Linked DNA regions of Homo sapiens. The protein of the gene in region 2 interacts with the protein of the main gene of each other region in a pairwise test. Each region holds a gene or a part of one and is shown on either strand. Other genes may lie near its edges. The genes, in order: ZER1, BMP2K, FAM120A, SIRT2, DLD, DYNLT3 and SH2D4A.

Region 1 (3,500 bases), on a different chromosome or scaffold from region 2:
AAAATCTGAATGGCCCTCCGAGGGCCTCCCCACTCCTAGGGGCTCCTAGAAGCATGCTATGCAGTCACTGAATGCTGGGAGTTCAATCTACAGGCCCAGATGGTGGCCAGGCATGGTGGCTCACACGTGTAATTCCAGCATTTTGGGAAGCCAAGACAGGAGGATCACTTGAGACCAGAAATTCAAGATCAGCCTGGGTGACATAGCGAGACCTTGTCTCTACCAAAAAAAAAAAAAGAAAAAGATTCCCAGAAGGGAAATTATTAGACAGCTGCATAGGAAACTAGAAGCCTGTGTGGGCCTGAGGACAGAGGTGGACCTGTAATAACGTCCTGAGCATTTACCGTGGGTCAGGCTTTAGGTTGGACACTTTGCAGGCCATAGTTATATCCACTTTACAGATGAAGAAACTGAGGTCTGGGAAAGTTCATTTACTTGTGTGAAGTTGCCCAGGTAGGAAGCAGCCAAGCCAAGATTTAGAGTCTAAAGCGTTTGAATCCAAAGCATTTCCCAGCAGACCAGGATTCTTGCATGAGCTGATGTCTCAACAGGGCTTCATTAAGGGCTTGTCCTGTACCCAGCTGGGAACTCTGAACTACTTGGCTTAGTTTGCCTGTTTAAAAGGGTCGCAGGAGGGGCTTAAAGAAGGTGACGAGAGTGGCCATGCCAGTGGGGCTGCTGCCCCTGCAGTGTGCGTGCGTGGAGGCTGTGTGACAGGCATGTGCACTGGGAGAGATGGCGCCTGCATCACCTAGAAGGTCTCCCAGAGAGCTGCCTTTAGATTCCTGGTTCCTGGGCACCCTTAATCTTACTGGTAGTTTAGTCAGGATCTGACCAGATACTCTTAGGAGAAGGAGGTTGCTACTTGGGGTGATCCAAGAAAGCTTCAGGGGGAGGAGGGCTTGGCTTTGAAGCGAGGATGAGAGTCCCTGTGGCCCTCTCCTGAGCCAGGCTTTTTTCTCTCCCAGGTATGTGGAGCTGGTGAACGCTGCCTGTAACTTCGAGCCACACGAGAGCTTCTTCAGCCTCTTTTCGGACCCCCGCAGCACCCGCCTCACGCGGATCCACCTCCGTGAGGACCTGGTGCAGGACCAGGACCTGGAGGCCATCCGCAAGCAGGTGAGACCTGCCCCGCCACAGCGCCAGGAGGGCCCACACCAAGCAGGGGCCAGGCTGCTCGCCTCCAGCCCAGCCATCCCCAGCCCAGCCAGTGTGCACCGTGACTGTGCACATCCCCCTTTCCAACCCACCTGTAGCCCAGGGCAAGGCCTGGGGCCGGGGGAAGGGGCAAGGGTGGTGATGATGATGGAGCTGTGCCCACTCCCAGGACCTGGTGGAGCTGTACCTGACTAACTGCGAGAAGCTGTCCGCCAAGAGCCTGCAGACACTGAGGAGCTTCAGCCACACCCTGGTGTCCTTGAGCCTCTTCGGCTGTACAAACATTTTCTATGAGGAGGAGAACCCAGGGGGCTGTGAAGATGAGTACCTCGTCAACCCCACCTGCCAGGTGCTGGTTAAGGATTTCACCTTCGAGGGCTTCAGCCGCCTCCGCTTCCTCAACTTGGGCCGCATGATTGATTGGGTCCCTGTGGAGTCCCTGCTGCGGCCGCTTAACTCCCTGGCTGCCTTGGACCTCTCAGGCATTCAGACGAGCGACGCCGCCTTCCTCACCCAGTGGAAAGACAGCCTGGTGTCCCTCGTCCTCTACAACATGGACCTGTCCGACGACCACATCCGGGTCATCGTGCAGCTGCACAAGCTGCGGTGAGCTCCTGGCCCAGAGCTCACCAGGGTGGGGTTTGGGGGGCAGGTGGGGAGGAGTAGAGGTGGGTGTTGTCACGCCCTCAGGGTTCAGGAGCGCTTGGCTAGGCAGAGGGTGGGGATGAAGACACAGTCCCATTCCTTAAACCCAGTGTTTCAGCTGGATTGGGGCTGTTTGGGGTTTCTTCCCAGAATGCCCTGGGGAAGTTGTGGCAGGAATGGGCCCTCCCCTGCTACAGACTAAAGGAGCTGGGATCTGCAAGGCAGCCCCACCCTGTACCCAGCTCCTAACCTGCACCCCCTACCCCAATCTTCAGACACCTGGACATCTCCCGAGACCGCCTCTCCAGCTACTACAAGTTCAAGCTGACTCGGGAGGTGCTGAGCCTCTTTGTGCAGAAGCTGGGGAACCTAATGTCCCTGGACATCTCTGGCCACATGATCCTAGAGAACTGCAGCATCTCCAAGATGGAAGAGGAAGCGGGGCAGACCAGGTGGGGCCCCAGCCTCCATGGCTACTGGTAGGGTGTCATTCAACAGGCATTTAGGCTGGCGCAGTGGCTCACGCCTGTAATCCCAGCACTTTGGGAAGCCAAGATGGGCGGATCACTTGAGGCCAGGAGTTAGAGACCAGCCTGGCCAACATGGTGAAACCCCATTTCTACTAAAAATACAAAATTTAGCTGGACATGGTGGCAGACACCTGTAGTCCCAGCTACTTGGGAGGCTAAGGTATGAGAATTGAAGCCGGGAGGCGGAGCCTGCAGTGAGCTGAGATCGCGCCACTGCACTCCAGCCTAGGCAACAAAGTGGGACTTTGTCTCAAAAAAAAAAAAAAAGAAAGTATTTGCCAAGTACCCCTCTGCCAAGTGCTGTGCTGGGTGCTAGAGATAAAGAAACAAATCAGGTCCTGCCCTCTTGGAGGCTGTGTGAGCTGGTGGGGACAATCAAGTCATTACAAGGGCTATGGTAGGGGCAATCCAGGGCCCCGGTGTGGCCTGAGGATCAGGAAGGAAGGAGGAGGAGGGACGCATCCTGGCTGTCCTGAAAGCTCATTCTGCCTCTGCCAGAGGAAGCGTGTTCTAGCAGAGGGAACAGCACCTGCAAAGGCCAGTAGGTGAGAGCATGAGGAGCGACAGGGGAACTACCCAACACTCAGCCTGACCAGAGCACAGTGCCATGGGGGGAAGAGGCAAGGCTGGCAGTGTCTGCCACCTATGGAGTATTGCTGGACATAGGTCGGTTCTTGGATTGGTTGGTTGAGAAGTTTGACCAAACCCTACCAGCTGTAACTGGCCACCCATAAGCCCTGGCCCCAGCCTGCTTTAATGGTGTTCAGTTGAGCTTGTCCCTTTGTGATTGTTGGTGAGACCTAAAGGTGCCATGTCCTTACTAGAATGGCAGGTGGTTTCTAAAGGTGGCTGCATTGCCCATCCTATGTGTTCCCCTACTATGTGGCTTTGCCATGCTTCCATCAGGAGGTGGTGCTTATGTCCCCTACCATTAAAAACAAAAGGAGTAGGGGATGAGGTTGGAGGGCCTAGAAGAGAAAGCAAGGAAATGCCTCACCACCCCCAGTGGGGAGGCCCAGCTCAGGCCTGGGTCCCAAGCCACTGACACCGGCACCCTCTTTCCCCAGCATTGAGCCTTCCAAGAGCAGCATCATACCTTTCCGGGCTCTGAAGAGGCCGCTGCAGTTCCTCGGGCTCTTTGAGAACTCTCTGTGCCGCCTCACGCAC
Region 2 (2,258 bases):
TTAACACAGTACCTGGCACACAGCACTCAATAAAAGTTTGGCTCTATTATGGGATGGTTCAATTCTGGTTTAAGGAAGGAAGAAAGGTTATTATATATGTACCACTAAGCAAATATATATATATATATATATTTGGGGTTTTTTTTCCCTAATATTATTTGGGTGTCCCCTGTGCTTCTTTAGGATGTAGTTATAACTAAACCTGTTATACTTGAACATCACTAAGAGAAGTAAATTATTATGAAGCTAGCAAAAATCTTGAGGCCAAAGTTGTTTCTTAACAGCTTTAATAATGCTTGTTGATTTTGAATAATCCTTTAAAAAGTGGACCATTTGCTTATTTTAATATCACGTCAGTAAAATGTTAGTATTAAAAAGATCAGCTTTTTATGGCATTGAAGAATGTATCTGCTAAGACACAAAAATTGCATGGTAAGTATAATAGGTGGAGGAGGAAAGGTTGTAGGCCGGATGAAAATTTAACTGACTAGAACATTTATTCAGGAGTGTAATTATTTTCCCTTACCCCAATCCCTGTGTACGTGTTGGGTATAGTTACGACATTATCCGGATTTGCAAATAGACACAACTTTCAGTCTTACCCTGTTTATTGTTTAAGAGTGATAGACTGTTGTCCTCTTGCTGGTGGAAAATCTAAGGTGGAGCCCACTCTTCTATGCTGAAGTTCACCAGGCAGAGCAGTTTTCTTACAAGTCAGCTACTCTGCTTGGTTTATTTTAGGTTTTGGTACTTCACGTAAGCACTGTTAGAAGGTACAAGTGTATTAATATCACTAGTTTTGAGGCGCTTGGGTACATTTGTTTTTAATATATTTAGAATGTGCAGTAAACTTTTTTCTCATTTTTTTTTCTTTTTAGCAAACTTGTTATTTTAGGTCCAATTATTGAGTTGACAGTCTACTGTGAGAATGAGATGACATATCTACTGTGAGAATACCATAAATGATGAATAGTTTATTTGAGAACTTTTATACTCAGTGGTGTTTTATATATTAAGATAAAAATATGTACACACATGCATGTCACATCTCTCTACTGTGGAGTTAATGTGAATTTTTAAAAAATGGAATTGCAACCACAATCATATCTAAGAGAACATTCACTCCTAGTGAGGGTTTACAAAAGCTACTAAGAGAATAAGGTAGATGATAATGCAAAGGGTCATGATTTGGGGTTATTTTTGTTTTATTTTAAAATTTATACTGCTACTTTTGAAAGAATTGTTTTTATGACTATGCTCTTTTTGTGATTGAAAAGTCATCTAATAGAAGCTGTATAGAAGCTACTTTTTAATTGCTGGCAAACAGCTTTAAGTGCACTTTCTTTGATTACACTTCCATTTTTTGTTAAACTTGAATTTTCTGAAGCCTTTTATGTACCACTAAGCAAATAACTTTAACCTTTAAATAAAGCAAATTTACATCTTTATTGTATTTCTACTTGTTACAAAACATACTTGCTAAAGTAACTTCAGTCCTCAAATATAGCTGGGAAACAATTATGAGATAGACTCAGTCTCCCCCTCCCACCCCTTTTCCCCTGCCATATCTAATTAAGCACTAACTGATTTTATTACTTTATTGCCTTTACACTGCTTATTCTTTTTGACTGAATTCTGTCCCTGATTCACTGTTTTGTTTGAAATTTAAAGTTATTTTCTTACTGTATTTATCATACCTGTTTTAATCTGTTTTCTTTAAATGCAATAAATCCCAAATGGATTGCATATTCTTTATAATCAGTGACTTTGGAGTTTTTCATTATTTGTCTTATTATGACTTTTGGATGTAAACTTCTATTCAAATTCAGTTATTTCATTCACACCACAAACATTAAGCACCTATTATGTAGCAGCTAGTGGAATAGAAAAGTTGCTAAGATTAGATCCCTATTCTTAAGGAGCTCAGAGTTTACAATTTAGGTAAGAAAACCCATTTGACTTAAGAGTTTTTGCCACAAGAACACTTAATAGCACGACTTTTTCAGTGAGTCATAATTACTGATACTCGAGTGATGACAGTAAGGCAAAAACAATATTGTGTAGTGCCTTCTGAATAACTTATTTTACAGCTTCCACATTATAAATTTTTAAAAATCTTTAAAACTGATAACATCTTTGGCTGAATTAATACTGGTTATTTGCTTAAATAACATTGTAATCCTCAATTATATCAGAAAAGAGGCTATGACACATTAAAGAGAAAACCTATTTATTGGATTGATGGACTAAGCTTGGCA
Region 3 (3,500 bases), on a different chromosome or scaffold from region 2:
AAATGTGTTAAATCACATAAGTATTTCTGTTCAAATGAGGCCAGTGTTAGGTCAATATAAGGTAATGGTAGGACTACTTAGTGGTGCTGTTTTGTTGAGGAATATTCTGTTAACTTTGGAGAGTTTTACTAAGACTTTGAAAGAATTTAATACTGTAGTACTCTTATTCCATAGAAATTACTCTTTTCAATTTAAAGATTGAGAACCTAGATCCCCGAGGAATTCAGCTATCAGCTCTCTTCATGAGTGGAGTAGACATGGCCTTGTTTGCAAATGATGCATGCGGACAGCCAATCCCCTGGGAACACTGTTGTCCTTGGATGTATTTTGATGGGAAGCTCTTCCAATCCAAACTCCTCAAAGCCAGCCGGGAAAAGACCCCACTCATTGACCTCTGTGATGGTCAGGTATGCTGCGGGGCCGGGTGGCTGCCTTTAACTGCAATGAAATAAAGCTCACTGGTTAAATCTGTCATCTTTTATACCATATTTATCATCCTGTGTTTCAAGATTCTGTTTTAGGTTGGGCCTGGTACTGAGTGTCACTAAATATCACTTCAGTACCCAGGATGAGCCAAGCTCCTGATATAACATTGTTTCTCATTATTTGTGGTAGTAATGTTCTAAAATTCACCTTGAACGCCAAATTAGTGAATACTGACCATTGCTCCTAGGGGCAATACAAGGTGCTGGGTTCCTTCAAGGCTCTGGTCACATATTTTTGTTAACCAATCAGTATATAATCTTATTTCATGTGCATTTTCGTTAAAGACACCTTATATAATATGGATTGTTGATTCATTATTATTGAACTCACAGCCAGTAGCTTCTGTAACACGTATATTCTCTGTAAGGCACATCACAGCCTCCTTATGCATTTAGGAACACCAGACAGCACTTCAGCACTACACTTGGAGACCATTTTATTTGTTTGTTTGTTTTGGTTTTTTTTTTTTTTTTTTTGAGATGGAGTTTCGCTCTTGTCGCCCAGGCTGGAGTGCAGTGGTGCGGTCTCAGCTCACTGTAACCTCCACCTCCCAGGTTCAAGTGATTCTCCTGCTTTAGCCTCCCTAGTAGCTGGAATTACAGGTGCCTGCCACCATGCCCAGCTAATTTTTGTATTTTTAGTAGAGACGGTGTTTTGCTATGTTGGTCAGGCTGGTCTTGAACTCCTGACCTCAAGCAATCCACCCACCTTGGCCTCCCAAAGTGCTGGGATTACAGGCGTGAGCTGTTGCACCCAGCCAGGGACCATTTTAAACAGTGAAATTACCAACAAAAAAGGACAAAAATGTGAAACACGTGGCACTTAATAAACTGTGAAAAGGATTCTTGTTTTCAGTATGAGCTGAAACAAGAAGGCAAGCGTTGTCTTGTTTGACCTCAGCTGGGGTCAGTGCATCAGGCAACAAAAATCTTTGCCGTGTTCTGCACAAGTCTGCAGACGACCAGAAAACTGCCATAAGTATTGATTTTTGTGGTTACAAATAAACGTTAGCAAGTAGGAGAATTTGCAGACATAGAATTCATGAATAAAGGGAACCAACTGTATAGTTGATAGATCTTATTTCTTTAGTGCTCATTTAAATTCAATTAAAACCCCCTGTGGATGGCATTTTCACATGCTGGTCCTTGTCTTCCAGGCTGATCAGGCTGCCAAGGTAGAGAAGATGCGCCAGAGCGTCCTCGAGGGGCTCAGCTTCTCCAGGCAGAGCCACACGCTCCCTTTCCCGCCGCCACCTGCCCTGCCCTTCTACCCTGCCTCTGCGTACCCCCGGCACTTTGGGCCTGTCCCACCCTCTCAGGGCAGGGGCAGAGGCTTTGCAGGTGAGTTGATTGGGACGTATTCCTGTGGGTAACAGATGCCAGATTCCTGTAAAGAAAGTGCAGCCCTTATAGGCAAGCCCATCTGCTGTGTTGACCTTGTCACTGTTGGTCTTGGAGATCCTGCAGCAGCAGTTCTTCAAGTCCGTGAGGAGCAAGTTTAATCCTGGAGATAGGGGAGAGGGACCTGCTGATGCAGATGCAAAAGCTGCACCGTAAAATCTGTCAATCAAGCTGAAAACTCTGCTCACATTTTAAGATATATTTGTTTCTCATGTGTAAGGGAAAATAAACCCACCCAGGTCAGAGAGAGCCATCTTCCAGGACTCATCTCCCAGGGCCCTTCCTGAGCCCCATGCTAGTGCCCTGTTGAATGACCCACTGCAGGGAGGGTGGCCTTACAATACTGGTCCCCAGGGACCATGGGCACAGGACAGTGAGGTGACAAGAGGGGCCAGGAGACCCCTCCATGGCAGCTGGAGGAGGCAGGGGCCACTCTGCCTGAATACCCAGCAGGGCCCTGAGTCCTGTCCCTTACACTTCTCCCCTCTCTCTCTACCCCGGGTCCCACAGGCGTCTGTGGCTTTGGAGGCCCCTATGGGGAAACGGTAGCAACAGGCCCTTACCGTGCCTTCCGTGTGGCGGCAGCATCGGGACACTGCGGAGCCTTCTCAGGCAGTGACAGCAGCAGGACTAGCAAGTCCCAGGGCGGTAATTATACCCACCCCTTCCCAGAGCTTCTGCCTGCCAGCACTTCCTTCGCTCCATCGTCTGGCGCCTTCCTTCCTCTACTGTCCTCATGAGCCCCTCCTCCAGCAGAACGGCCTTTCTTCTGGGTCCCCGCTCTGACCCTCATTGACCACTCCTCCTGAGACTCTCTGCTCTCAGGTCTCAGCAGCGGCTCTGCTGTGGCCAGTCTCTCCTTTCAGGGTAGACCACTGAGTGTCCACCTAGAACAGAACCTTTCTGTGCACCTGGGTAACCTGACCATCGCCTCGTGTTCATAGGATGAGCTGCTAATAGTGGCGTTTCTTTCCCAAGCAGCCATCTTTTGGTAAAGATTATCATGCTTGTATAGAAAATGCTAATGGTCACAGAATTCCTGACATAAAAAGTCTGTCACAGTTTGTTTCGCAGAAACATTTTTAAACAAAGATCTAATGTTGGGCATATAAACAAGGCAGTTTACTGTAGATTCCCAGTGCTTCTCTTTGCATTTGTATTAGGCTTGCAAAAGAGAAAAGGGTCTTAACATTTAGCATAGGAAGCAATGTCTTGTGATGGTGCTGTAATTGGAAGTCAGTGACCTGTATCTTTGTCCTAATCCCACATTTTGGGACTGCAGATCTAAATCTGCCCATCAAGTCACATAACAGGATTAACTGTTCAGATGTGATTTTGGAGTTGCATTGAGGATGGGCAAGCCTTTCTCTCTTGATCAACAATGTTTTTCCAACTCAGTTACATGGGATAGTTAGGGAGGCCAGCAAGGGAACTGTGCGGAAAGGTGACTTGCAGATTTGGCGACGGGTCAGCCCCTCTGTCTGCAGGTCACCTCTCCTTTCCCTGGTGCAGCTGCATGCCTCTCTGCCTCCTCTGTCTGCCCACCAGCCTCCTGCAGTGTGCTACTCTGCTCTGTGACTGCTCCTCATGCAGCTCGCAGCCATGTTTCCTCTC
Region 4 (3,500 bases), on a different chromosome or scaffold from region 2:
CTCCTAGGCTAGTGGAACCTGCATTTGCAGCTGCCAGGAGTTACCTTTACCCCAAAACAAGAAAAGCAGCATCAGAGAGAGTTATGATTTTTAACAAAGTGGAAGCACCTGGACCCAGCCGTGCTTCAAGCTGGATTAGAGCCAACACACTCCTTTTTGGCTTAAGCCAGTTCCAGCTGGGTTTCTTGCTACTTATAAAGAAAAGGTTTCAATAAATGGTTCAAGTGGCTGGGGATGGGAGGTCACTTGGGGCCAGGAGCCAGGCAAAGTGGCCCAATCCTGACAGGGGACTCACAGCGTTCGCTCTGCATGTACCGGGCCACCCCTTCCAAGGTCAGCTCGTCCAGCAGACGCTCCTTCTGGCTGCCCAGGCTGAGCGTCTGGGAGAATAAGTTCCGCAGGAAGTCCACTGACCGGAAAGAAGAGAGACAGCGGCAGGACGGGCATTCAGCCAGGGGCATGGATGTCTCCGGCACCCTGGCCCCAGCCCTGGGGTTCCCGGCCTCCCCACATCTAAAGGCACAAGGCCCGGCCCAGCCAGCGGCCTCCAGGAGCCTGCTCTGGCACTGGTACCCAACCCACTGCTACATACTTTGGATGTCACTCCTGATGGAGTTGAGGAGGTATCACCCACACCCCTGCCCTGAAATCCCCCCGCCCCCCAGAACCCTGCTCCCTGTCCCTCCAGGAAGATACTCACTGTCTGCTTCTCCACCAGCGGCTCCTCCCTCAGAGTCTGAATCTGAGTCCTGGAAGGGGTGGGGTGGAGTGGCCAGGCCCGAGAGGTGGGATTAGGGAGGGAGGAGAGGGGGTGATACCAGGTTTGGGGAAAAGGCTGTGGCAGGAAGGTGGCCTGAGGAAGTGCGGGGTGGTGGAGAGACTGCACTGGGGCTAGCTCCAGGGCTCTGGGACAGGCTGCCGGGGTTGGAGTCCTGGCCATGCCCGTCCCCAGGAGCAAGACCTCATGTGAGTGGCTTTGCTTTGCTTTTCTTTTTTGAGACAGTGTCTCGCTCTGTTGCCCAGGCTGGAGTGCACTGGTGCAGTCACAGCTTGCTGCAGCCTCAACCTCCCAAGCTCAAGGGATCCTCCCACCTCAGCCTCCCAAGTAGCTGGGACCACAGGCACGTGCCACCATGCCAGGCTCATTTTTTGTTTGTTTGTTTGTTTGCTTTGTAGAGACGAGGTCTTCCTCTGTTGCCCAGGGTGGTCTTGAACTCCTGGGCTCAAGCAAGTCTCCTGCCTCGGCCTCCCAAAGTGCTGGGATTACAGGCGTGAGCCACTGTGCCTGGTCGTGACTTTGATTTTCTAAGTCTTGGTGTCCCTCACCTTGGAAAGGGAGCTTGGGTGCTGGGCGCAGCACCAGGGGCGGGGGAAGTGCTTGGTAAGCGCTGGCTGTTGCTGTTATTATCACAGCCTGGGGTCTTCCCTTCGTTCCCGGGTCCCCTGGAGCGTGGGCCTGCTGTCCCTTCCCAGCAGCCCTGGGGGCCTCTGAATAATGTCCCAAGTCACTCTGGGAATGATTCCAATGCAAAGCCTTGGCCCTCACTTCAAGGACCTATGTGCCCCCTGCTCGAGGCCTCAGACACTCTGCCCACCTCTCCAGCAACCTCTGTCTCCTTCCTCGAAGCCTCCCCTCAGCCCAGCTCCAGACTGGCAGGTCTCTGGGACTCTGTCCAGGGCCTCTCTGCTTTCTCTTTCCACTTTCCTGGGGTTACCTGTCTCATCCATGCCAATGACCTCTGCCTCGTCACTCATGATACCATCTCTCTGCCCTCAGATCCGGGGTTCCCTGGCTTCCTGGACACCTTGCCCTAGGTGCCCCCCAGCCTCTCACTCCTACTATGTCCCAAATGGACCCTGGCATCTCCTCCAAGCCCATCCTCCTCCCAGGCCTCATCTCAATGCGATCGTACTGTCCCCCCCATCAGCCAGATGTTTCCTGCCCCCGCCTCCCTCCTCGCCCTCCTGCCACAGCCCTTCAGCTCCAGAGCATGTACGCTGAGCCTCCTAAGGGTCTGTCCACCAACCCCCTTTCCCTCCCCGGCGCTCCACCTGGTCCAGCCTGTCCTCTCCTCCGGGGGTCCTGCCCCAGCCTCCTCCCCCAGCCTCCCAGCCTCAGTCTCCACCTCCCATCCACCCTGCTGCCCTGCATGTGAGGCTGTCTGGGTCAGCTCGCCCCTCTCCACTTCAAAGGCCCTTCTCTCTGGCTTCTGCAGTCTTCCCAGACATCTATGGAATTGCCAGGATGTCCACAAGGGCAGGGACTTTGTCTGGGTGCCCAGCACTGAGAACAGGGTCTGGCTCCTGGCAGGAGCTCCAGGAGCTCCTCTACCTTGGAATGAATGCCTGCTTCAGGCTGGACCACGGCTGGGCCCTGCAATGGATTTCACCAAAATGCAGTTCTGACCAAGCCACCACCTCAGACAACTCCCTTCCCCGGATACTCACTGCTCTGCGTCCAAGTCTTTTTGAATAAGACCCTCCCTTCCGAACATACGACAATTTAAAAAATTGCTTTTTAAGACTGTGCAACTCCGGCTGGGCGTGGTGGCTCATGCCTGTAATCCCACCACTTTGGGAGGCTGAGGCAGGAAGGTTGCTTGATGCCAGGAGTTCAAGACCAGCCTGGGCAACACAGTGAGACTCTGTCTCTATTTAAAAAGAGAGAGAAAGGCTGAGCACGGTGGCTCACGCCTGTAATCCCAACACTTTGGGAGGCTGAGGTGGGTGGATCACGAGGTCAGGAGATCGAGACCATCCTGGCCAACATGATGAAACCCCGTGTCTAATAAAAATACAAAAAATTAGCCAGGCATGGTGGCACGTGTCTGTAGTCCCAGCTATTCAGGAGGCTGAGGCAGGAGAATCGCTTGAACCTGGGAGGTGGAGGTTGCAGTCAGCGAGATCACCCCACTGCACTCCAGCCTGGGTGACAGAGCGAGACTCCGTCTCAAAAAAAAAGAGAGAGAGAAAGAGAGAGTGAGAATGAGAGAGAGAGAGAGACAGAGAGAAAGAGAGATTGGACAACCTCTGCAAAAACCTTGATTATACTCATGTATACTTCAACAACATATAACTTGCGGCACTCACCTTGTAATTGCCCAAGCCCACCCTTATAAAGATAACCACTGTTAGCTAAGCTTAATGGAAATTACTCCAGTTTTCTCTGCATAAAACTAATATTTTTTACAGAAATAGGTCATAGTACAATACAACATCTTGAGTTTTCGGCAGAACAATATGCTACAGACCCACCTAATTTAAAAAATAATTTTTTAAAAAAGAGACGGCATCTTGCTATGTTGCCCAGGCTGGTCTCAAAACTCCTGGGCTCAAGTGATCCCCCTGCCTCCCAAAGTGCTGGGATTACAGGTGTGAGCCACCGTGCCCGGCCTCACCTCGTTTTTCAGAGCAGCTACATAGTATTGGATTGTATGGATGAACCATAGTTCATTTAACCCATCCACTGACAGCCATTTGGACTGTTTCCAGTTTTGCCC
Region 5 (3,500 bases), on a different chromosome or scaffold from region 2:
CCTGTCAGTACCAAGGATATTGATTATTTGCAATGTACTGTTTTGACATTTACTGAATTCACCCATATGGATTATAAGTAACATTGGATGTCTTAAAGCTTCAGTTATAGAAATCATTATCTGGGCAAACTGTGACTATCAGTCTCCCTGCATTCTGTGAAGTAATTTAATCCTGTATCCTCAACTGTTATCCAACCATTATCATTTTGGATATTTTATTTCTAGAGGAAGGGTAGGGGGAGGATTCTAGTAACCCATGACTAACAGTGAGTGAGTGATTTATTCTAGCTTTGAACAGGTCAAGAAATCCTTTTAAAAAAATGCTAATATGATGATGAAGGGAAAAGTTGGACCTCTTATACACTTTGTCTCTTGTTAAATAGGAATCTCATTCTTCTCAACTCATATAACAGGAGAAATGTTAGATTTTCATTTCTAAAGGATATTTTTCATGGCTAACTCTATACCTTTGGCATCACTCAGCAGAGATTATTCAGTGCCTTCTATTTGCCAGGCAGACCCTGAGCCAGAACTTAGATTTTAGTGGAATGAGGCTGAGTGTTCCATAATCAGTTTGGTGATCCCTTGACATTGAGTAAATCATAAATCACTTAGTACCCATGTGTGTAAAGTGTGTAAAAGCTTTGAGTGGATGCAGTAACAAGCATTTTACACACATACTTGTATTTTATCTGAGGTACATGCTTACTGTCTTTTCCTCAGGAATGCAAACTTCATCAGGACAGGGACTGTGTGTGACTGTTTTGTTTAGTATCTAAAGTGATACAGTAGGTAATCAGTACATATTTATTGAATGAATGAACACTGGGGCCTGGTCTGTTTTAATTACTGCTCTGTGGCAAAGCATCCAGTATGGTGTCTTGTACAAAGTAAGTAACCAGCTACAACAGCAATAATATTAACTGATGCATTGAGGGCTTCACTCTGTCTCAGGCACAGATTTAATCCTCATGGCCTTTCTACTACCTGTGTGCTGCTGTTCTCCCCATTTTATAGATGGAAGAGTTAGGTTTTTTAACTAGGAAATGACAGAGCTGGGAGAATCCTTTTGACTTCAGAGCCTACACTGTTAATGTTTTATTGAGTTTTCTTCCTTACATGAGTATTGATTGACTCTCCTGAGGAGTTCAAATCTTATTATGATATAGTCTTGGTTACAACATCTGAGAGATGTCTGAATAGCCTTATGAACCAGGTTCATCAGAATTTGCAAAGTTGTGTGTGTTACTGTTGATGTGACGTTTTATTTCATGACAGCACTTAATCAAACTTGTAACACTTAAACTTACAGCACTTATATCACTCACATTCACTACATTCATTCATTCTTTTATTATTTCGACAAATACTAATATCTACTATGTGTTAGTCATTGGGCTAACTACTGGAGTACCGCAGTGAGCAAGACGGACAAGACCCAGCTTTTATAGAGCTTACAATTCAGTTGAGGGAGACAAACATCCAACATATAATTGTGACAGGGGTCCATAGACTTAAGCATAGGGAGTAATGACATCTATATATGGATTGGGAATGGTCACATAATTCTTTCCTAAGGAATTATGTTGATAGCTAAAAAGGTTGAGAGTAACTCTCGTTACAGGTTGGACCTTTTACTGTAATTCTTTTTTTTATTTAGACTGTAAGAAATAGGGCTATGTCATTTATATATACACACACACAGACACAGCATGTGCAGACACACCCCTCCAAGAGCCTAAAGTAGTGTTTGTAATGTGAAATGCCTGCTGTTAGTGTTTATTTCTAGGTAGATGGAACAGATCGTACATAGGTAGACCAGCATAATTCTATGCATGTAGGCTAAGAGTAGTAATTCACCGTTACTGAAGCTTAAACTGCATGGTATTGGTGAGTAAACAGAACGTGGTAGGAGATGAGGCTGGAGAAATAGTTACTGAAGGAATTTGGATGCTGTACTTAGGAACATGGGCTTTATCTAACAAGACACTGGAGAACCAACAGAGCGTAACAACAGAGAGAATAACATCTGAGTTGGGTTTTAGCTTTGCGGTAGCACTGGGTAGGCTAAAATGGAGGATGTGAATGAGGCTAGAGGCTGCTGGACTGAAGTTTGGAGGTGGATCTGAGAAGGGGAGTGACACTGAGTTGCTAGTATGCACCTAGCACCTCCTTAGGATCTTAACATGCGTACTCTCTGATCCTCACAACCCTAGGCTGCAGGTGTCATCCTTACTATTACCCCCATGTTGTATCAAAGCCCAGAGAGATTGAGTAATTTGCCCAAGAACTTAACGGGGTTAGAGTTTGGAACCCAGGTCTGTTTTACTTCAGATCATTTCTTATTTTACTATATTTCTTCTTTAGGGACCAGGAGGTTATGACTAGAAAGTAGAGTATTGATTTCAGAGGCTGAACAGTTTTGGGTGATAACAAGTATAGAGTGTTAACTATGGGAGGAGGTTACTGAAAAAGACTGGATATTAAGGCCATTGACAATGTAAAAACAACTTCCCTTACCCCTCAACAAAATGTCAACAAATAAACCTTATCAAGTAGTTCTTACATTCAGTAAATTTGGTAATTAATGATTATTGCCTTATGACATCTCTTTTCCTGTTCGTTTTTTCTTTTTAAAAATCTGGTTTTGTTTTTGTTTGTTTTTTTTTTTGAGACAAAGTCTCGCTCTTGTCCCCTAGGCTGGAGTGCAGTGGCGTGATCTTGGCTCACTGCAACTCCACCTCCCGGGTTCAAGTGATTCTCCTGCCTCAGCCTCCCGAGTAGCTGGGATTACAGGTGCCTGCCACCAGCCCGGCTAATTTTTGTATTTTTAGTAGAGATGGGGTTTCACCATGTTGGCCATGCTGGTCTCGAACTCCTGACCTCAGGGGATCCACCCACCTCGGCCTCCCAAAGTGTTGGAATTACAGGCATGAGCCACCGCGCCTGGCCAAAAATCTGATTTTACCTTTATTTTGACATGTGCCTCTTTTTTCTCACTGTGTTTTAAGGTTATTGAAGGTACTGATGAGTCATAAATATTTGATTTCATTCTGTAAAGCATATTCTTGTCATTTTAGTTGAAGTTCTTGATTGTCCTGGAGATTATGGGATCATCTGAGTGTTTTGGAAGGCAATAGAACATAATGGTATATAGGAGCACACATTTCAGAATCTAGAGGACCTTGTTTGAATCCTGGCTAGATTACTTACTAGTTGTGTAGCCTTATGCAAATTATTTAGTTGTTTTCAACCTTTTCTTCCTCTGTTAATGGTAGTATTAAACTATGTCATAGAAATGTAATGAGGCTTACATAAGACAGTACACGTGACTGGCTCACTAACTGGCACATTTTAAGCTACCCAAGTGGTAGGTATTATTGTAGACTGACTTTTTTTTTTTTTTTTTTTTTTGAAACTTGGTCTCACTCTATCATGCAAGCTGGGGTGCAATGGTGCGATCTTGGTTCACTGCAACTTCCACCTCCCGGGTTCAGGAG
Region 6 (3,118 bases), on a different chromosome or scaffold from region 2:
TTAATTATGTTGTAATGGTAAATACTGGATTTGGGCTGCTATTTTAATGGTATTTATTCTGCATAATATGCATAATATATCTATGTGGTCCCATATTCATTTATCCTATTTAGAATTGCTTTCTTTTTTCTTTTTTTTTTTTTTTGAGACGGCATCTTGTTTTGTTGCCCAGGTTGGAGTGCAGTGGCACGATCTCGGCTCACTGCGATCTCCGCCTCCCGGGTTCAAGCAATTCTCCTGCCTCAGCCTCCTGAGTAGCTGGGATTAGAGATGTGTGCCACCACGCCTGGCTAATTTTTGTATTTTTAAGAGAGATGCGGTCTCACCGTGTTGGCCAAGCTTGTCTCAAACTCCTGACCTCAAATGATCCACCTGCCTCCCAAAGTGCTGGGATTACACAGGTGTGAGCCACCACCCCCAGCATTTCTTCTATTTAGAATTTCTAAGAGCAAGCAGAATGTCATTTCTCTAACTATTAAATGATTATCCAGAAGCAAAAGTACAGCACAGGAAGATAATATTTATTATATTTTAACTAGAAACAGAGCAGATAGCAAGTTCACCAGGTAAAAATTTTTTTTCTTAAATTATGCTTAAACAACAATAATAAAAAACAAGTCTGCATGTATATTTTGGTCACTATTATGATCTTCCAGGGCACAAAAGCCAGCAGCATAAAGAAACATGAATAATGACTGAGAATTTTTGATGTGCCAAAAACAAAGATCACTGCATTAAACTCCTTTATTTTGTTAATATTATTCTTAAACATTGAACAATTATTAATTATTGTTATTTGGCAAAATATCAAACATGCACATAGTATTCCTACAAGAATATTGCCTTAATATTGTCAATATTAACGCTAAGCTTATTCCTCTCCAAAATTCAATGAGTTATGGTTCCGCTCTCTATATGTATTAGTGTTAGTGGTAATATGCAAAACTGATTTTGTTTTCAGGGTTAAGTAGCAGATTGACTTCGCATTTGGTGGCCAGCTGTGTACCCTAATTTTTCATCTATTTTCTTAATAAATTTAATTACATTTCATAAGCCCTGAGATAACGTGCTAAGGATTGTATACTTTTAATCTATACTTTATTCCACTCAATTTGAACCCCACATAATAAGTCTTTTAAGTTATTTACAGATGGTTGTAACTAAAGCAATGACAAAATTTACTACTTGTATAGGTAAGACTGATAATAAGGCCTTTAACTAAGAGTTGCATATTTTATATGCACTTTTAACTTGCTAGGAGCAACTCTTAAAATTACATCTATAATTCTGTCAGAAAGCAATAAGTGCTTTTCATTTTGCTTACTTCCATATGTGTAACCAGATTCACTTTTTTCCTCCCTTGTAAAACAACTACTTTCTTTTCCTTCCCCAAATATTAATACGTCTTCCAACTGAACAATTGCTAAAAGGAACTTAGCATTTGCACAGCACATTGACAACTATGGTGCTTAGCAGAGACATATGCCCATAATAGGCATCTGATAAATGTTTGTTCCACATGGAATGAGTGAATTGTAAGGCAGCTGTTTGAGTCATACACTGTTCATCATATACTGCAACTAATTTTATTTAACTAGGAAATTCAGTTTACCAGATTTAATTTACCCTCAAGTGTAAATCCAAAAATTTGAAATTAAAAAAAATTGATTTACTAATCCTCAGAAAAAGTAAACAAGTTAATCATAGTTGTTACTATACTATTAGTTGATAGAAAATTAAAAAAATTATTACTTTCCACTAAATATTAAGTACAACTGAGGGGAAGAAAGTTTAAAAAAACTTAAAAATGTTAGCTAATTCTCATCATTTTCTCCACATTTATCCTTGCAGCTTTTTTGTTCATATATTTATTCCTGTTAACTTCTCTAGCTGAAAGAGAATTTTATTATCTGAATGGAGTTCCCCATCACCTTAGGTACAAAATATTAGTGAAAAGCTGGTGTAAATATAAGATTGTATTTTCATGTCATGCCATATTTCTAAATTTATTTTTTGCTAGCATTAAATTTTTCCTATTTAAACGATGCTGTATAGAATATGAGCTAATCTGCCAATTACTATGATATTGCTTGCTTATAATATTCAGTTTTTGTTGATAGCTTTAAAGCATATTGCACGCTTTTCATCTAGCACACTAGTAAACAACTATTACTCTTTTTGGAAAGGATACACTGACAAATTCTTAAGTTAATGGCTTTAGCCCAACATTTTTAGTCAGTTAAAGAACAATAGCAATGGCAAAAACGTTGACAATACAGTTCATGGTCCGGTTCTCCCATCTTACGGTACAGGTTCCTGAAACACAAAAAAAGGATTTTGAAATACCAGCAAAACATAAAAATTATCAGAGAATATATATATATATATACACACACACACACACACACACACATATACACACACACACACACACACACACACACACACACACACATATATATATATATATATACACATACATTTTTCACATGTTTTAATATCTTATTTCCTTCAACCTGTTAAGTTTTCACATTTCATATCGGTCTGAAGGTATACTTGTTACTAGGTACAAAGCAATACTGTTGATAGTCTTTTCAGAATTTAATCAGAATTAAATAAGTACTTGGTTAAAAAGTGCAGTTTGACTTTGCTAAAAGTTGGATTTTGTGTAAATCAGCTTAAGATCTCTTACCATCAGATGTGGTATCCCAAAAACAGGAGCTGGCTGTGTGAAAGCCATATGCGCTCTTCTGGACCACTGCACAGGTCACTGCAAATAAAGTCACAGAATGAGGGCACTTACAGACAAAGGAAAAGAGAACCAAGGTCAAAGTGTGTGAGTTCAGAGCTCTACAAGCCGAAAACAAGACAAAAAACAAACAAACAAACAAAAAACAGAAAACAAAGCGTTCAGCAAATAGATTGAAAAAAAAATAAAAGACTCTCATCTTTATCTACCATCATGATTTTGACCCCACTGGATTCAGTTGGTTTTCTGACCATTGTCATTACCATTGGTGATTGTATTGCAGGAAAAATATCAGTCAAATTCTGTGCTTTGTACCATGGGCAGAATTCAGACACAGAAATGCAGGAAATACTCCACTTTATAAACAGT
Region 7 (3,500 bases), on a different chromosome or scaffold from region 2:
AGTTGTCATTTAAATGGCATTGGTTGTAATGGGACTGCAGATCAATGTAGGATCTCAACATCCTGCAAATATAGCCATACCTGCTGTCTTCCTCAAGCCACCTCAGGTTGATCTAGCAGTTCAGATTTCTCTGAGTCAGATGGAAACACTAATTCTTTCACAAACCTAATTCTTCTAGCATTCTGGAGCATCCTCTCCTCTGCCTTCAGTTGCATGGGCTTATTCTTCTCCTATGAGTTTTCTCACCCATTCTGCTCACTCAAATAGGAGTCAAGGCTGGGTCACAGGCAGGAGCGGGATGCTAACACATCCAGCCTGGTATTCCTGTGTGCTTCTGATTACAAAGTTAAAATGTATTCACTATCAAAAATTTAGGGGAAAAAAAATCCAAAACACAATATTAAATTACAAGAAAAACATTCAAATAAATAATCTTGAATCTCACCTTTCCAAGAAAACTAATGTTTACATGTTATTATAACCTTCCAGTTCTTTTCCTTCAGATACTTAGACATTTCTAAATAGCGAAGCTTTTCATTCTATTTCATGGTGTTTTTTCTTCCCCAAGCTAATGAGATATAAACAGTCTAAGATCATTAAACACTCTCCAAAACCTATTTTCCATAGCTATATATCATGCTATTTGATAAATTACATCATAATTTTGGTGATACAGAAATAAATGGAGAACGAGTCTGCTGTTCAAAAGTAGCCTGTAAGCATTTGAGTAATAAGTTAGTAATAACATTTGAGTGGTAACTTACTGTGAACATATCTCTCAACAACCCACATTAAGCGCTTTCTAGATTGATCACATTATTAAGGGAGAGAATCAGCTGAGAGCCTGGAAGGTGCTATGGAGACCTCTGGGTACTCACGAGATGCCTGCCATTCCGAGTCTTCTTTCCAGCTCTTACAAATCTGCTTCGTTCTCTCTTCTTCTATTTGATTTATTTCTTCATCTTGTTTTTTCTTCATAGATTCTTTCTTCTGTTTAAAAACAAAACAAAAAAAAACAAAAACAAAACAAAACAAAAAAAGAACCTTGGTGAGCAAATCCAGCAGTTTCCTGAAGGACGGGGTACCCGGCACAGCTGACTTCTATCTAACTCTCTGGCCCACTAGGAAGGATCAAGTGTGGACTTTGGAGTCAGTAAGACCTGAAGTAAGACTGACCATTGCTAGCTAGTGTGTAACTCCAGGAGCAACAAATGAACCTCTCTTGGGCTGTTTCCCCATAAGAAAGATGAGAAAAAAATATTTCTTAGGGTTATATTGAGGATTAGATAACTTAAGAAGTCCCTGGCACAGTGTATAACATATAGTAAGAAAAAATATTCCTTTTCCTCAGACACAGTACTTAGCTGCTTCAAACTGACTCCCTGAAGGATGTAAACACACTATTACATAGAACTAGCATCAACCTACTTTACAGTAGCTGACAGACTCCACAGAAGAAATGCACATTCCCAGAGCAATCTCAGCTGAATCTCTCCCCCGAGTCATGTGTCCCAAAATGTGGTACTTACTACATGATTTTAAGTGTTTCAAAAGAAATATATATCATTATTATTTTTTTAAGATGGAGCCTCACTCCTTCGCCCAGGCTGGAGTACAGTGGTATAATCTCGGCTCACTGTAACCTCTGCCTCCCAGGTTCAAGCGATTCTCCTGCCTCAGCCTCCTGAGTAGCTGGGATTACAGGCAAGTGCCATCACACTTGGGTAATTTTTGTATTTTTTGAAGAGATGGAGTTTCACCATGTTGGCCAGGCTGGTCTCGAACTTCTGACCTCAAGTGATCCACTGCCTCAGCCTCCCAAAGTGCTGTGATTACAGGCATGAGCCACCACACCCTGCCAGAATATGTATTTTTTTGTTTCAAAAAAAAAAAAAAACAGAAAAATATTTTTCAAAAGCATCTTTTGAGAAGGGAGAAATACTTTCAAAATGTAAATATTCCTTTAAAAGGAGAATTAGGTTTTTAAAACTTAGGGTAAAATTCCACATAACAAAATTTACCACCTTAACCATTTTTTAGTGTACTGTTTTCTGGCATTAAGAGCATTCAACGGAAATCATTTTAAACGAAAGAGAAATGAACAAACCAAATCACTTAGACCTGAAAAGTACTTTGCTTATTTGGACACAACCTTCTGAGTGCTCACAAGACGACTGAATTTACAGTTTGGTGGACTAATAAAAGCCTTGGTTAGCTAAGCAATAAAACAAACTGAAATGGCCAGAAAGGGCTGCCTGTGCCCACCTCTCTATCACAAGTGACAAGCTTTTTAATTTTGTGCTTTCCCACAGAAATGTAAAGACTTCCTTGCTATTATGTCACCACAACGTAAAGTATAAACATTAATATTGTGAAACTTGTTTCTGATCGCTCTGGGCAGTCATAAATCACAGTTCAAGTAATCATCATTCATAAATTGTGCTTCACTGCAGATGTAACTAAACTTCTGTGCATTTACTGTTTTCATTTTTTTTTCCTTACACTGTTTTCCTGCCTAGAGCTAAGCTCCTTTTGTTTGCCAACATTTGAAAATCCAAAGGACAGCTTTGATGTTTGAAAGGACTGTTAAAATTTGCCATCCTTTGATTGAAGCTGTTTGCCAGCCCAAGATAGATACATGTGCTGCTAGCAATTTCTAAGCTTAAACAGAAAAAGCTTCAAAGTGGAGCTTTGTTCATCCTTCCACATGCATACGTGTTTATTTTTAAACGGTTAGGAAACATATAGTGAAAACATCAAGCTATGATCATCATGGATATTGTTGCTGAGGATAAGCAAGAAATTTGGAACATGACATGATTCTACCTAAGAAAAAATATTAATAATAACAGATGTAGTACTTGGTTGATGTTACTCAAATGTCTAACAGAGCTATATTTAATAAATCTACTCCTTTAATCTGCATGTAATTATGTACATGCACAGTGGAAAAGAAGAAAAATTAACGAGTTTCACAGAGTAATAGCAGATGAGATCTGCTATTACCCATCTATATACGGCCCTGACCACCGTATTTATTCAAGAAAGCTAGAAAACGTAAGGAACTTGTCCTGCGTCTCTGAGAGAATTTTACTTTTATCAAAATCTGTAATGGTTTACTTTCTCTATTCAGAAGACCATCATTTCCTTTTCAGCAGTGTTTTGCTGGAAGCATGTTGGACCAGGACTCAGGACTGTCAGCCAGGCATGGGGAAATCCAGGTGATGGCTTGGAGTGGAGGGGCGGAGGGGCCGAGGCTGGATGCTAATCCAGATGCCCAGGGTGGAAGGTGTGGAGACCCAGATGTGTGGTGTGAGCTGTGAAAATGTGTTCAGCTAACAGTACCAGAAAACAAGGGCACGCTGGGCCCATATAGAAAGCCGCTGGGCCCGTTCAGAAAGCCTCTTGTCCAGCCTGTTGATGGAAGCACTTAGAATGCCTCCCCACCAATTCCTTCATCAGAGCCTCACAAGTGTCCCCAAAGGAGGATGCCTCTGTTT

The links.
Region 1: the proteins of BMP2K (region 2) and ZER1 interact in a two-hybrid assay, tested with the Homo sapiens proteins (one large-scale study listed by IntAct).
Region 3: the proteins of BMP2K (region 2) and FAM120A interact in a two-hybrid assay, tested with the Homo sapiens proteins (one large-scale study listed by IntAct).
Region 4: the proteins of BMP2K (region 2) and SIRT2 interact in a two-hybrid assay, tested with the Homo sapiens proteins (one large-scale study listed by IntAct).
Region 5: the proteins of BMP2K (region 2) and DLD interact in a two-hybrid assay, tested with the Homo sapiens proteins (one large-scale study listed by IntAct).
Region 6: the proteins of BMP2K (region 2) and DYNLT3 interact in a two-hybrid assay, tested with the Homo sapiens proteins (one large-scale study listed by IntAct).
Region 7: the proteins of BMP2K (region 2) and SH2D4A interact in a two-hybrid assay, tested with the Homo sapiens proteins (one large-scale study listed by IntAct).

Annotation. Positions count from the first base shown.
Region 1 is NC_000009.12:128,751,428-128,754,927, reverse strand, and holds part of ZER1 (protein zer-1 homolog), read left to right. Parts: intron 1-968; coding exon 969-1,119; intron 1,120-1,327; coding exon 1,328-1,764; intron 1,765-2,078; coding exon 2,079-2,255; intron 2,256-3,400; coding exon 3,401-3,500. UniProt on the Homo sapiens protein: Serves as substrate adapter subunit in the E3 ubiquitin ligase complex ZYG11B-CUL2-Elongin BC. Acts to target substrates bearing N-terminal degrons for proteasomal degradation with the first four residues of substrates being the key recognition elements.
Region 2 is NC_000004.12:78,914,608-78,916,865, forward strand, and holds the end of BMP2K (BMP-2-inducible protein kinase), read left to right. Parts: 3' UTR 1-1,758; downstream 1,759-2,258. UniProt on the Homo sapiens protein: May be involved in osteoblast differentiation.
Region 3 is NC_000009.12:93,556,185-93,559,684, forward strand, and holds part of FAM120A (constitutive coactivator of PPAR-gamma-like protein 1), read left to right. Parts: exon of another isoform or gene 1-174; intron 175-197; coding exon 198-407; intron 408-1,642; coding exon 1,643-1,826; intron 1,827-2,396; coding exon 2,397-2,534; intron 2,535-3,500. UniProt on the Homo sapiens protein: Component of the oxidative stress-induced survival signaling. May regulate the activation of SRC family protein kinases. May act as a scaffolding protein enabling SRC family protein kinases to phosphorylate and activate PI3-kinase.
Region 4 is NC_000019.10:38,893,119-38,896,618, forward strand, and holds part of SIRT2 (NAD-dependent protein deacetylase sirtuin-2), read right to left. Parts: intron 1,038-3,500; exon of another isoform or gene 750-1,037; coding exon 701-749; intron 410-700; coding exon 296-409; intron 1-295. UniProt on the Homo sapiens protein: NAD-dependent protein deacetylase, which deacetylates internal lysines on histone and alpha-tubulin as well as many other proteins such as key transcription factors.
Region 5 is NC_000007.14:107,894,183-107,897,682, forward strand, and holds part of DLD (dihydrolipoyl dehydrogenase, mitochondrial isoform 1 precursor), read left to right. Parts: intron 1-3,500. UniProt on the Homo sapiens protein: Lipoamide dehydrogenase is a component of the glycine cleavage system as well as an E3 component of three alpha-ketoacid dehydrogenase complexes (pyruvate-, alpha-ketoglutarate-, and branched-chain amino acid-dehydrogenase complex).
Region 6 is NC_000023.11:37,838,336-37,841,453, forward strand, and holds the end of DYNLT3 (dynein light chain Tctex-type 3), read right to left. Parts: intron 2,771-3,118; coding exon 2,693-2,770; intron 2,317-2,692; coding exon 2,240-2,316; 3' UTR 501-2,239; downstream 1-500. UniProt on the Homo sapiens protein: Acts as one of several non-catalytic accessory components of the cytoplasmic dynein 1 complex that are thought to be involved in linking dynein to cargos and to adapter proteins that regulate dynein function.
Region 7 is NC_000008.11:19,358,693-19,362,192, reverse strand, and holds part of SH2D4A (SH2 domain-containing protein 4A), read right to left. Parts: intron 991-3,500; coding exon 879-990; intron 1-878. UniProt on the Homo sapiens protein: Inhibits estrogen-induced cell proliferation by competing with PLCG for binding to ESR1, blocking the effect of estrogen on PLCG and repressing estrogen-induced proliferation. May play a role in T-cell development and function.